Linked DNA regions of Homo sapiens. The protein of the gene in region 1 purifies or fractionates together with the protein of each later gene. This does not show direct contact. Each region holds a gene or a part of one and is shown in the gene's direction. Other genes may lie near its edges. The genes, in order: INTS4 and BMP2K.

Region 1 (7,694 bases):
GATAGCTAATCCTCATTTGAGAGATGAATAGATGTAGTTCAAAGACTTGACAAGAAATTAATGCAGTTTTCTTGTGTAGCATCTGCACAACTGAAATTGAGGGTCTTCTGCTTTCTTTCCTATTTGTAAAGATTTTTCTGGGAGACCAAAGTTCTTGTTAAAAGAGGGTATACATTAGAATCTGCATACAGAATACACCAAATTGTTATCTGTCCTTAAAAACTATTCATATCAAGGATCACCTGAGCCCAAGAGTTTGAGACCAGTCTGGGCAATGTGGCAACATCCCATCTCTACAAAAATTTTAAAAATTAGCCAGGTGTGATGGCACACACCTGTGGTCCCCAGCTACTCAGGAGACTGAGGTGGGAGTATCTCTTGAGCTTGTCAGGCCAAGGTTGCAGTGAATGCTGATTGCAACACTGCACTCCAGCCTGGGTGACAGAGCGAGACCCTTATCTCAAAAGAAAAAAAAAATCCATATCGATGCTGAATGGATCAGTATGTTATTTTTATCTTATTCAACTTCATTCTCAGATTTTGTTGATACACAGAACCATTTATTTTTTTAATATATAGCAAAATTGTAAATTAATTTTTATTTTTGACACAAATTGGTCTTATTATTGGGGATGTGGTTTCCTTACTTGCTCCATTAATATAAAAATTATGGCACTTCAATGGCCTGACAAAATGTGTAACACCCAAATAGCATCTGCAGACACTTAGCAATTTTTTTTAATTAATAAGTTTTTATCCAACAGTATAAAGAAAAGCAGTTTTTTTTGTTTTTTTTTTTTTTTTTTTTTTGAGACGGAGTCTCGTTCTGCGCCCGGCCAGAAAAGCAGTTCTTAATGATGATGACCTTGATGCAAGAAGTGACTTGTAAGGGAAGGACATCATAAAATTGTAATTGTTTCCCTGAGAGCATGAGACTCTCTTTTGGGCTAAGATTCAGTGTGCAGTAATACATTGATTGTGCATTATTGTTGCCTGGTTGACAGAAGCTAGAAGTATTTAGTTTATTGCTTGAAAATCAAAGTGTTTGTAACAGAGGTGCAATCAACAGTTTAGTCATGAGAAATGATGTTTTTATACTAAATATAAATAGTTCATTTGTTTTGTTTTTGAATTTTAGGGGGCGCGGTTTGAGACAGTCTTGCTCTGTTGCTCAGGCTGGAGTGCAGTGGCGTGATCTTGGCTCACTGAAACCTCCGCTTCCTGGGTTCAAGCAATTCTCTGGCCTCAGCCTCCCGAGTAGCTGGGATTACAGGTGTGTGCCACCACACCTGGCTATAAATTTTTTTTTTAAAGAAATGGGGCCTCGCTGTGTTGTCCAAGCTGGCCAAGTCCCATTCACTTTTCTCCGCACTAGTGACTCACTTTGAGAATCATTATCCATTAGTGGGTAATGTGACCAATTTCATGAGACGTAATTTTTTTTTTTGAAAAAAAATAAAATACAAGTACCAGAGTAAATCACAAGCTATAAGGTAAATATTGTTTTGTTAAACTTGCTGTATGTCTGTTTTTATGTACTGTCTTGCAATATTATGTGTTTCTTACTTTGGGTGCTAGTCAAAAGAAGTTTGAAATCCAGAGTTTTGTACCATTTTTATTACCTCATTTCTTCAAAGTATTTTTAATTTATGTTGCTATGTTATGCAAATAGCTTGTTTTAGTAGCATTGGACTAGGGTAATGCAGGAGGAAAACTGATAATTTATTAAAATTCGTGGTGAGAGGTGCTAAAATAAAAAATATTGATAGTACTAAATGTCAACAAGGATGTGGCACATCTAGAACACTTATGCAGCACTGGTGGAAGTGTAAATTAGTACAGCCATTATGGAAAACTATTTGGCAATATCTTCTTTTTTGGAGGCAGTATCTCACTCTGTCATCCAGGTTGGAGTGCAGTGGCATGATCATGGCTCACTGCAGCCTCCACCTCCGAGGCTCAAAGGATCCTCCTACCTCAGCCTTCTGGGTAGCTGGGACTATAGGTGTGTGCCACCACATGCCTATAGTCCCATTTGCCCAGGACAGTCTTGAACTCCTGGGCTCAAGTGATCCTCCTGCCTTGGCCTCCCAAAGTGCTGGGATTATAGGCATGAGCTACTGTGCCCAACTGGCAGTATCTTCTTAAGCTGAAGCATGTCTTGTTACCTATCAATTCTACTTCTACATATATATCCAACAAAAATGTGAACATGTACACCAAAAGCCACATACAAGAATAATCACAGTAGCATTATTCGAAATAGCCAAAGACTGGAAATAACTTAAATATTCATCAACGGAAAGGCTAAATAGATTTTCATGTATTTACAAATGAATACTATATAAGTAACAAGAATAAATGAACCATTGCTATCTGCCATACCTTGCATAAATCTTACAAACATAATAAGCCACAGAAGCCAGATGCTATTTGATTTCATAAAGTACAAAAATAAACAAATGAACCTGTGTGTTAGAAGTCAGGATAGTAGCTATTTTTGGTGGTGATGTGGTGAGGTTGTTGCTGGGAGGAGGAATGAGGGATATTTCTGGAGTGTTGGTTATATACTATTTAATCTGGGTGCTTGTTATATATGTGTATTTGTGAAAATTTATTGAGCTGTACACTTAAGATTTTGCATATTTCTATGGATATTAAAAGTTTTAAAAATTTATACATTTTTGTCTGGTTTTAAAATTTGAAAGCAAATAAAACGCAATCAGGGACGAATTTTAAAGTACCTACTCTGTACAAGGCAAAGTGCCTTTGTATTCCCAAAGCTATTGGGAATACAAAGATGAAAAACTAGGACTTTTATTTTCTAAGGACTCATTTTTTTTGAGAAGACCCGTACTCAAGTAACATGATGCTAGACAGACTGTCCTAAGAATATAGGTCTTGAAATCACCCCTAAGGTTGCTGCAATGCTTTTGTTTCTGGTCTTGTCTGTGTTTGTTAAGATATCTTAATCATGTCCTTTTTTTCTTTTTCTTTTTTTCTTTTTTTTTTTTTTTTTAATAGCATCTGACAGATACGTCTCATGGTGTAAGAAATAAGTGCCTGCAGTTACTTGGCAATCTTGGCTCTTTGGAGAAAAGTGTCACAAAAGATGCAGAAGGCCTAGCTGCCAGAGATGTCCAGAAGATTATAGGGGATTACTTCAGTGACCAAGACCCACGTGTCAGAACAGCAGCTATAAAAGCCATGGTAAATGTGATTATGGAAACTAGTTGGGGCTAGTGTTCATTTTTGTTTTTTAAGTTTATAGCTAGTGCTGCCTTGGATACATTGTAAATTCTTCAGCATATACTTTCAGGAGGGTATTGGTGGTGGCCTCGCAGAACTCAGTGACACACATTCCTGTATACAAGTGTGCTTTTTTGGCTTTCTCTGGTAGCTTTCATGTGTATTTATGAAACATGGAAAGCACAATAGGAACCTGTTATAATTCCTTCGACTTGGAGGCATATGACTTGGTATGATATTATAATAGGGGGAGGTGGTGTTAATCATTTTTTCTTTAGGCTTCATATCATTATTTCATATTTTTCTAATACCTTCTTGGGACAGTCCATGGGTTAGATTTGTGAAATGCTTGAATGCTCCTATTGAAAGACGACAAGGTTTCTTATTTATATAGCACTAATTTTGGCTAAAAGGAACCATGTTAGCCTGATACAATAGGGGAAAATATGTGAGATTGTGGGGAGACATTGGAAATATTGCTCTTTTCCTCCCAAGCACTTAAACTATATATTTATTATCTAGTTGCAGCTCCATGAAAGAGGACTGAAATTACACCAAACAATTTATAATCAGGTACCTTATATGATTACTGTCTGGAAGGGGTTGGAGGTATCATGAAGCTGGGAGGGCGGCACACAGGTTCTCAGAATTTGAAAACGTAAGGACTTCGCTAGTTAATAGTGGCAGCGTTGATTGGGATGGATGTGAAGTCATATTCAAAACATACTTTTCAGGAAGAGAATGGAGGTTATGTAATTAAATAGCGCTAGTACATGTGAAAAGGACTTTTAGGAGGATTTACAAAGTTCAGTATGAGAATGAGAGTACCTGAAGAAAAGTGTAGCATTTAGAATAAGGAACGTGTTAGTCTTTCTGATCACTGTTTGGTTGGGCCGTACATGAACTCATTTCTGGGCACCACACTTCACAAACTAGAGTGTGTCTGGAGAAGGGTGACCAAGACCGTAGGATCATATAAAAAAAAAGTCACATGCATGTAGTAGTAGTGGTAAAGAAAGGTATAATGAAGTTGTGGAAAAGCTGATTGATGGCCAACCAAAAGGCCTTATGAGGCTGTATTTCTCTTGGAGGATAATTGACTGAATCTGGTAAAAGGAATCTAAATCCACGTTCAGAGATTAGGTTTTGTTAGCCTGCCAAGAGTGGTTTTATCTCTCATGGGAAGAAGATAATTAGCCAAGCCCCATCACAGATGTGTAAACCAAGTTTATTCCTCTATTGAATGAAGTAGAATGGGTCCAGAATGCTTGTGGTGGTGTGACCATCGCCTTCTTTTTCTATAAGAAAACTATGTGGGAAGCCAAATAATTCAAAGGAAACTTGGATCGTAAGGACTCAGAGGAAGGGAAGTTAGTTGGCTGATTCAGATGTTTGGTGGCGTAAGACTCTGTTAGTAATCTAGGCAAGCAGTAATGACAGCATCAAGGGAGTGAGGATGGACTGATAGTGTAGAATTTAAGATATAAGGTAGAATTTGCTTCCTTAATGAGTTCAGGTTTGCGTGTGTTGAGTATAAAAGTTTGATGGGACATCCATGAAGAGAATTCCAGCCATAAGTAGTTATAAAGGCCTGGAGATCAGGAGAAATCAGAGCTAAGGGTAGGTATTCAAAGCCATCAGTATTTAGGGAGTATGGGGCTACCCAGAAAGAGTGAGTGGATTGAAACAGAGGCCAGTGATTTCAGACCAAGGTAAACAGAAGTGTGTGCTTTGATTTTTACAGGGGGAGGAAAAAGCCATAATTGGTGTTTGAACCTGTGAGAACAGTACTGTTTGCTCCCAGCATGCTTTGCTGGGTTTGATCTGTTCTAGATGTTTTTATGCTGTCAGTCTGTGATTCTCCTTTCAGACATGGGGTAGGGTGCATAGTCAGAATACAGCCAGAGCAGCTGACAGAGGTCAAGATTCATTTTTAAGCAAAGATTCCAGAAGTTAAAACCACACACAAGTGTTTTACTGGGCATCCTTATCCAACCACCCTATCTTCACTTTGAAAATAGTTTAAACATTGCCTGAGAGGACACAGAACTAATAGACTTTTGGAATTCTTCTTTGCAGGCCTGTAAATTACTCTCTGATGACTATGAACAAGTGCGCAGTGCTGCAGTCCAGCTTATCTGGGTCGTCAGTCAGCTCTATCCTGAAAGGTCAGTGTGGGTGTAAGCTGGCTTTTGTTGATTGTGAAGCCGTTTTCCTCTCCTCTCACCATGCAAAAAGCCCACTTCTAGAAAAGAAATGTTGGTTACATTTTTGGAAGGCAATGGGGAATAAGGGAAAAGCACAGGCCCTGAAAATCAGATTGCCTGGTCCTCATTTTTCATCTCTGATAGGAACTTTCTGTACACTTTGGAAAGATACTTCACTTCTTTTATCCTAACCTTCTCATCCATAAGTGAAGAAATTGGAATATCTTTCTTAAATGGTTTTCAGTACTTTACAAAAAAATCTTTAAAATTGTTTGGGACCCATTTTAGTTTGGCTTGTGCCAAATGCCAGATAAAGATACCAGATGAGTTTGAGAATAATGATCTCTTATGTAGTTTTCCTGGTTAAAAATATTTTCACAGCAATTAAATTAACCACAGTGATTCTTTGAGGAGGTAGGCAATATTATTTATTATATTTTGTAAGATAGAATATTATATTTATAAATGTTTATTTATCTTTTATTTATAAATATTTATAGAATATTTTATTTTTCCTTGTATAGGAAAAAGGGGTGTTTTTTCCTGTTCATTAAACTGCCAGAATTTGAAAACCAGAATGAATTAATAAACCTGTAGGAGTAGGCTCCATTTGTAGTGTTTTAGGACTTAGACACATACAAAGAAAAGGGCTAACTGGAAATTGTGTCTTCTTTTAGGACTGGATTGATAAGTAAGTTTTATATTGATTTATTCTGAGATTTACTGTATTTATAGAAGTTCAGTCTGGACACGGTGGTGCCTGTAATCCCAGCACTTTCGGAGGCCGAGGTGGGCGGATCACCTCAGGTCAGGAGTTCAAGACCAGCTTGGTCAACATGGTGAAACCTCGTCTCTACTAAAAATACAAAAATTAGCCGGACATGGTGGCACACGCCTGTAATCCCAGCTACTAGGGAGGCTGAGGCAGGAGAATCGCTTGAACCTGGGAAGTGGAGATTGTGGTGAGCTGAGATCACACCACTGCACTCCAGCCTGGGTCACAGAGCAAGACACTTTCTCTCAAAAAAAAAAAAAAAAAAAAAGAAGTTCAGTTACAGAAGATAATAAACTTAAGGATATGAAATATTCGGTGGAAGCTAGTTTTTGATAATTTCATAAATCTTTGAACCTTTGGTGGGTTACGTACTTTTTTTTTTAAGGCAGGGTCTTGCTCTGTGGCCCAGGCTGCAGTGCAGTGATGTGATCTCGGCTTACTACAACCTCCAACTCCTGGGTTGAAGCAATTCTCATGCCTGAGCCTCCCAAGTAGCTGGAATTACAGTCGCGCACCACCACACCCAGCTCATTTTTTGTACTTTTAGTAGAGATGAGGTTTTGCCATGTTGGGTAGGCTGGTCTTGAACCCCTGGCTTCAGGTAATCTGCCCGCCTCAGTATCTCAGTGTGCTGGGATTACACGCCTGGCTGAACCTTTGGTGGGTTACACACTTTTATTCAATACATTGAAAATTTGCACCTGGTTGCAGTGACTCAGCCCTGTAATCCTAGCACTTTGGGAGGCTGAGGCGGGTGGATTGCTTGATCTCAGGAGTTTGAGATCAGCCTGGGCAACATGGTGAACCATCTCTACTAAAAATATAAAAAATTAGCTGGGTGTGGTGGCATGCTTTTGTAGTCCCGGCTACTCAGGAGGGTGAACTGGGAGGATCACCTGAGCCCAGGAAGTTGACACTGTGGTGAGCAGTGCTCACGCCACTGCACTCCAGCCTGGGCGACAGAAGTGAGACCCTGTCTCAAAAAAAAGCATAATTTGCAATGCAACTGAAAGAGTTGGTTTGTACTCCCAGAGTGATTTGTTTATTCCAAACTGTATTTAATCATTCTAGGATTTGAACTATTCAATTATCATTTTTGTGTGTGTCAGTCTTCATTGACTGTTCTCAGTTTATTGAGCCTGCAGCCTTACTTACTTATGTATTTATTTGTTTATTATTATTATTATTATTATTATTATTATTATTATTATTATTATTATTTTTTGAGATGGAGTCTCGCTCTGTTGCCCAGGCTGGAGTGTAGTGGCACTATCTTGGATCACTGCAACCTCCACATTCCAGGTTCAAGCGATTCTCCTGCCTCAGCCTCCTGAGTAGCTGGAATTGCAGACATGTGTCACCATGCCTGGCTAATTTTTATATTTTTAGTAGAGAGGAGGTTTCGCCATGTTGGCCAGGCTGGTCTCGAACTCTTGACCTCAAGTTATCCACCTGCCTCAGCC
Region 2 (7,694 bases), on another chromosome or scaffold:
AGATAGTTATAATTCCATCTACAATAATGAATCTTTGAAAATTTGGTTCTTGGTTTGAAAGTAGGAAAAAACATTCTTAGTAACTCTGTACCAAAGCTACCTAAAGAAAATTTAACTCTATATTTTTGTATAAATATGTGGAATATATGAATGTATTCCTATTTTGATTTTTTTTCACTAAAAATCTACTTAGTATTATGTTTTGACTAATCTATTGGTTCATTCTTAGTTGGGGAACAGCATTTGAAATAATAGCTCTCAATTAATTGATTAACCCTTTCGTTAAGTTTTGTTTACAGATATTGGTTGATCATATAGATTTTTGCACGGCATTTATTTACTAAATCACTGCATAATTAGTAAACTTGCTTAGTGTCAGTAATTAACATGCAACTTCCTAAGATAATAAAAAAGCTAAAATTTTTAGTTCGTAGTTCCAAAGCACAAAAACAGAAATAAAGAATATCTTGACTAGAAACCATCAAAATATCATTCTACCATATTTAGTTAAAGAAAAAGAAGAAATACATTACTTAGAGCCAAAAATAAAAACAGTGGGTGAATATATGAAATTTCACAGTATACTAAAATAATGTAAATGAGTTATGATTCTGTGCACCATCTACACAGTTTTTAATGCTGTAAATACATGTTGTTAGTGCTTATTCTAAATATTATACCCCCATCTCCCACCTACTTGAAGAACAGCTATTTTTATGTTAATAATACAGATCTCAGTAAATATGGGGATTATTAGGATTTAGGGTATATTGAATTATAAAGCAACATATTTAGGCTTATACTTTTGGGAAATTAACTTTAGCAGTGAAATAATCCTGATTAAATTTCATAGTAAATCAAATGTGTATTATTTAATCTAACAACTAGTGGGAATCTGGCCCCAGACACAAATAGTGGGAAGATCTGAAATTTTTTTTTTTAAATTATAGGAATATGTTTAGGCAAAGAAATGGAGTATGAAGGTTTATGGCATTCTTAGCTAGAGGTCACATTCTAAAGTGCTGTGCATTGTATAGTTATAACCAACTTTATAACTTAAAATACTTATTCTGACAGTCTTTTATGTCTATGGAATAGGACTGAAAGCCTTAGAATATACTGAAATACTTTTTATTTTTGTGTAATTCACCTTTCTTTCCCAGCTCTTCTGTAGTTTCATGATGAATAGATGATTAAGTAGATCACTGCTACTGCAGAAACTTACCTTGGATTGTGGTAACTTGCAGCCTGGAACCTAACTTTTCCTCAGCAGGAGGTACTGGAGAGATAAAAGGATTAATAGTTTGTCTTAGTATGCTTTCAGAGAGCCTCATTACTGCTCTTTACTTTTTATAAGTTTATAACAGCAGTAAAAGTGTAGAGTGAAATATTTAAACAATGTCAGTGTGGGTTGCAAGAATATGGGAGAAAACAGGAATTTGGATAAATATTTTTGATTGTTATTTTAGTTTTATGTAGGGGGGCAAAATAAGTAAAACCAGTCTATCTACACCAACAGAAAATTTCCCCAGTTGCCCGTACTATTTGCAGATGTAACCTGAAAGCACAAAGGTGGTATAGATGATTGTGTCTTTTCTTGCTCTTTTTGAAAGTGTGTTTCCATTTCTTATACTGTGTTCTCAAATATAGCTGTCTAAAAATCAAAAATAGAATTTCCAGGATCTAAAATGTACCCTTATGCTGTGTGGATATACATTTGTTGGTCTACTTACTTCTGGTCAGTTCTGAAGTGGATCTCAGCTCCTCTTGAATTAGCCATAGACTTGCTTCTCCCTACACTTCTCCCTCATTTATATTCACCTGCAACCACTGGGCCCAGAAAAGTTACTAGAAGCTTATTGGGTATGATGGATAAAATAATTGAATTTGGCCATTCCCAGGACATGATGATGGTAGAGTGCTTATTATGTGTTCAGGCACCGTTCTAAGTCCTTTCTTCACAATAGCTCTATGATATAAAATGTGTTATCCCATTTTGTGTATAAAGAAAGTGGAATAGTGGTGACCTTGTCAGGATTATTATTGGGTTAGCTTTAGTAGCTGTGTTAATTACCCATGAGGAGGGAATCATAGTATATAAATAAAGTGAAATTGATACTAAAAAAGGAGGGTTTCCTTTTTACTCCTTGAAGGAAAAAGTGCATGAATCATGGTTGTATCTAAAATGCCGAAAAACTAGAAACAACCTAAATATTCTATTGCTAAATAGTGAACAGTTATATATGGAATATTTTATCATATTTCTATCAGAATAAATAATAGACTGTTGATACCTGAAAAGATGCATTAAAAATAGTAAGTTAAAAACCCACAGATTTATACCCACACTGACAATTATAAATGTGTATTTCTATTAATACAACTTTGATAAATGGACAAAGGGCCAACAGAATGAGAAGTATAAAGTGACAGATGTCTTCTGAAAAGTAATGGTAGCCAGTTGAATAATGAAAACAGTAAATTTTAAGAAGACTAGGGAGTACAATGTAATAATTTTAAAAAGAAGGCGAATTTAAATTCACTTCCAAGTGACACTCTCCAAGATGAATTATCTGTCCTACGTTAAATGTTCCAGAAGACCTTCAGGAACACAACTAGAAATGGAAAATTTCAAGATAAGTTGTATAGCAGCATTTCCCCAAAGTACTTTTGCATAGTTGGTTTTAAAGGTTAACAGGCATTACATGTAAATAAAAGGGTAGTGAAGACAATTTGGGAAATCCTAGGGTTCATAAAATTAGATTCTTTTGTGTAGGACTCATTAGCACCTTTAATGAGCATACTCCAGGTGAGTAGGAGTGGAGGCAGAATGCAGAGTGCACCATTTCATAGACTTGTTTGCTTGAGACCACAGAACTGTTTGTCTTGGTTCTTGTTAGGGAAATAGCCTCTGCAGAATACACTTTGGGCAACATTGGAATGTTACTTGGAGGTGTCCGTGAGCAGGCGTGAGGTGTGAATGTTGTGGCTGTGGGTGGGTATGCAGCTCGAGGAGTAATACGTTAAACGTTTCACAGTCAGGGATGATGGGAAATCTTCTGGAACCGTACATATTTTATTTTCATTTTTCCCTTCTTCCCATATTTTGCTTTTGAATAAAAATTCATAAAAATAAATTCACTAAAATTAACTTTGTTTTTAATATCATAAATACGCTGTGTAGGGAAGAAGTCAAACTTGAGAATCTGCATTTGATTTGCTTTTAATCTGGAAGGATAACAAATACAGCATGTAGCTCTTGGCTGGTTTTAAGGAACTGACAGAAGATTATATTTGCAATTAAGTATAACCTGGTGGTATTCTTCACATACTTGTCTCCCACACATTCTTTAGCACCACTACTCATGTCAACATTGCCAACAAACTATACAAGATGACCAGATCCAGTGGCCATTTTATGTCCTTAGTTTACTGGACCTCTTTGCACCATCCAGCTCAGTTGTCTGTTACCTCCCTCAAACATTCTTCTCTCTCCATTTCTGTGACATTGCACTCAGCTGTTTTCTTCCTCCTCTCTGGCTGTTACTTTGTAGTTTGTTTTGTATGTTCATCTTCCTCTGCTGACTTCTGAATGTTTTATACTGAGGGCTCAGTTTTGGATCTTCTTTTCTTCTATGTTTTCTTCCGAGGTATGCCCTTTAGTCTTGTGGCTCTCTCTGCATACCAACTGCATGGTGATAACTCCCAAATCTATTTTCTTCAGCCAAAAACTAACCATTGGTTTCAAATCACAGATACCTAACTGCTGTACACTTAAATGTTGTCTCACACATATGTCAAGCTTAATGTCTCCAAACAAAATTTTTAGTACTCCTCTTCACTTTCCAACTTACTCATTTTTTAAAAAATTATGCTCATTAAAATTTGTGTGTGGGTACATAGTAGGTATATACATTTATGGGGTACATGAGATATGTTGATACAGGTATACAGTGCATAATAATCACATCAGGGTAAATGGGTTTCTATCACGCCACTCATTCTTTTCTTTCTGTTAATGGTGCTGCCATCCACCAAGAGTTTTCAATCTCTATTTTTTCTACTTTGACCCACCCTGCCACCACTGTCATGTCATCTAGGCCACCAAAATCTCTAACTTGCATTACTATAATTTCCTTTTGCCTGAACTCCCCTTCTTACCTTCCCTTAGTCTTTTTTTTTTTTTTTTTTTTTTTTGAGACAGTTCGCTCTTTGGCCCAGACTGGAGTGCAGTGGTGCGATCTTGGCTCACTGCAACCTCTGTCTTCCAGTTTCAAGCGATTCTCCTGGCTCAGCTGGCACCTGCCAACATGCCTGGCTAATTTTTCTATTTTTAGTAGAGATGGGGTTTCACCATGTTGGCCAGGCTGGTCTCAAACTCCTGACCTCGTGATCCACCCGCCTTGGCCTCCCAAAGTGCTGGGATTACAGGGGTGAGCCACCGCACCCAGCCCCCTTAGTGTTTTTCTATAGAGCAGTCATTTTTTTTTATGTAAACCTAATCATGACACCTATTTTAATAATAGCTTTCCATTATACATGGAATTTTGAATTAGATGTATAATGAAATATACGCTGCTTATCATGGCCTTAGAGGACCTTCACAGTCTGGCCTTTTCCAGTCTTCCTTACCTCATGTTGTACCTGATCCTCCCTTGCTCACTATATTCCAGCCACAATAGCCTATTTTCAGCCCCTTAAATATGTCTTTATATATGCCATTGCTTTTATTGGAAGCTGCTTCCAGCTTATCCTTTGCATGGCTGGGCTCCTTCTCATTGTTCAATCCTAACTGTCGTCTCCTTAGGGAGGTCTTCACCACTGTCCAAAGTAGGTTTATGCGCCCATTTCCCTGCTGTCCTTTATTTCAGAGCACTAGTCACAATTTATGTTTACTTACAACCTCTGACTGTAAACCCCTGAAAGCAGAAACCATGTTTCTTTTACTCACCAATGTATAATCAGTGTATAGCAAAGTGCCCTATATTTCTTTCGTTGAATGAACTCAGAAAATGAAGTGACTGAATGGATTCTGAGCTAAAAACATCTCCAGATGGTTTAGATTTGTTTTTAAAGGAATCTCGCTTTTTTAATGTAATGTATAGATATTATAATTAAAGGAAGTCATATCATCTAGAGAAGGCAGATGTTTTTGGTACAGTCTCCATTTAGTATCTGGTCCTTAGCTTTGGTGAGGCCATTCATGCTAAGTCAATTCAAAAGATAGTGGTTTATAAAAAATACAATGCTGATTTAAAAAAATAGTGAAACAAATACGTAACTGAGCAGGCAGGCTGTTCATGCTTGTTGATCTCTATGGGAAAACTTTACAAGAGTTGAAATATAAGCAGGAGGTATTTGGTGAATGTGAAATCTGAGCTTTCAGAATTAGCAGAATAATGTTATTTTGGTGGTGGGGTGAAGAAAATTTGCTAGTCTACTACATTCTGTGTGCTATAAATAAAATTTGGCTGTCAGTGAGAGTACGATGAGGCAGGGTGTAGGGTCCAGATATGAATAAGTCTGTCTACATTAAGACTTAACTATCTACCTGAGGTCAAATGCATTCTCTAAGTCTAATGACGAAGAATTGACAACATTATTTTTTCCTCTAAGGGAACTCGTATGAGGGATTTGTAATGCCATGTGTAATACATATTAACATTTAGTGCAAGAGGATTCTGAAATGCATTGGAATGCTGTAATAATATTTATTTGAACTTGCAGGTTCTCCTGAAAAGAAAGCTGAACATTCATCTATAAATCAAGAAAATGGCACTGCAAACCCTATCAAGAACGGTAAAACAAGTCCAGCATCTAAAGATCAGCGGACTGGAAAGAAAACCTCAGTACAGGGTCAAGTGCAAAAGGGGAATGATGAATCTGAAAGTGATTTTGAATCAGATCCCCCTTCTCCTAAGAGCAGTGAAGAGGAAGAGCAAGATGATGAAGAAGTTCTTCAGGGGGAACAAGGAGATTTTAATGATGATGATACTGAACCAGAAAATCTGGGTCATAGGCCTCTCCTCATGGATTCTGAAGATGAGGAAGAAGAGGAGAAACATAGCTCTGATTCTGATTATGAGCAGGCTAAAGCAAAGTACAGTGACATGAGCTCTGTCTACAGAGACAGATCTGGCAGTGGACCAACCCAAGATCTTAATACAATACTCCTCACCTCAGCCCAATTATCCTCTGATGTTGCAGTGGAGACTCCCAAACAGGAGTTTGATGTATTTGGCGCTGTCCCCTTCTTTGCAGTGCGTGCTCAACAGCCCCAGCAAGAAAAGAATGAAAAGAACCTCCCTCAACACAGGTTTCCTGCTGCAGGACTGGAGCAGGAGGAATTTGATGTATTCACAAAGGCGCCTTTTAGCAAGAAGGTGAATGTACAAGAATGCCATGCAGTGGGGCCTGAGGCACATACTATCCCTGGTTATCCCAAAAGTGTAGATGTATTTGGCTCCACTCCATTTCAGCCCTTCCTCACATCAACAAGTAAAAGTGAAAGCAATGAGGACCTTTTTGGGCTTGTGCCCTTTGATGAAATAACGGGGAGCCAGCAGCAAAAAGTCAAACAGCGCAGCTTACAGAAACTGTCCTCTCGCCAAAGGCGCACAAAGCAGGATATGTCCAAAAGTAATGGGAAGCGGCATCATGGCACGCCAACTAGCACAAAGAAGACTTTGAAGCCTACCTATCGCACTCCAGAGAGGGCTCGCAGGCACAAAAAAGTGGGCCGCCGAGACTCTCAAAGTAGCAATGAATTTTTAACCATCTCAGACTCCAAGGAGAACATTAGTGTTGCACTGACTGATGGGAAAGATAGGGGGAATGTCTTACAACCTGAGGAGAGCCTGTTGGACCCCTTCGGTGCCAAGCCCTTCCATTCTCCAGACCTGTCATGGCACCCTCCACATCAGGGCCTGAGCGACATCCGTGCTGATCACAATACTGTCCTGCCAGGGCGGCCAAGACAAAATTCACTACATGGGTCATTCCATAGTGCAGATGTATTGAAAATGGATGATTTTGGTGCCGTGCCCTTTACAGAACTTGTGGTGCAAAGCATCACTCCACATCAGTCCCAACAGTCCCAACCAGTCGAATTAGACCCATTTGGTGCTGCTCCATTTCCTTCTAAACAGTAGATACTTCTGATGGATTCTCGGCATTAACTCCTGTTTCAAAAAAGTGTGAACAGTTTTATGAATTTGAAAGAAAATTTGGTAGCTCTTTATAGCATTCATTCTTAAAGATCAGTCAGAATAGGTGATTTCTAAATAAACCAAATAGAAGAATGAAGTATCTCTACAGGGTAGTAACTTGATTCCTCTTCAGGAGAAAAGGGAGCTAAATTGCAAGCTCTAACTAAGGGTTTCTGCTACTGACATCACAACACAGAAATGCAAGTGTGGTACTTCCAGTGAAAGCACATGGCACCTTTCTAGGTGTGTAGCCACTGAGAAGGGACAGTGAAACTGTTATTTTTGATATCAGAATGTCATTTTTATGTGCATATCCCTAAAATTAGGGTTATTTCTACATACACTAGTTACACTTGTGAATTTTTTTTAAGGTCTCTTTTAATTTCCAGACAGTTAAAAACAATCTAGTTATCTTAAAGCATTAGAAAGTTATTATCTGGAGAGTGCAGAGATTTCAGTCCATACACCTTTCTCCACAAAGCAGAG

The links.
Region 2: the proteins of INTS4 (region 1) and BMP2K purify together in Homo sapiens (affinity purification with mass spectrometry; 2 studies listed by BioGRID and IntAct, with this or other methods). This does not show direct contact.

Annotation. Positions count from the first base shown.
Region 1 is NC_000011.10:77,956,469-77,964,162, reverse strand, and holds part of INTS4 (integrator complex subunit 4), read left to right. Parts: intron 1-3,024; coding exon 3,025-3,210; intron 3,211-3,771; coding exon 3,772-3,822; intron 3,823-5,328; coding exon 5,329-5,417; intron 5,418-7,694. UniProt on the Homo sapiens protein: Component of the integrator complex, a multiprotein complex that terminates RNA polymerase II (Pol II) transcription in the promoter-proximal region of genes.
Region 2 is NC_000004.12:78,904,883-78,912,576, forward strand, and holds part of BMP2K (BMP-2-inducible protein kinase), read left to right. Parts: intron 1-1,225; exon of another isoform or gene 1,226-1,279; intron 1,280-5,727; coding exon 5,728-7,151; 3' UTR 7,152-7,694. UniProt on the Homo sapiens protein: May be involved in osteoblast differentiation.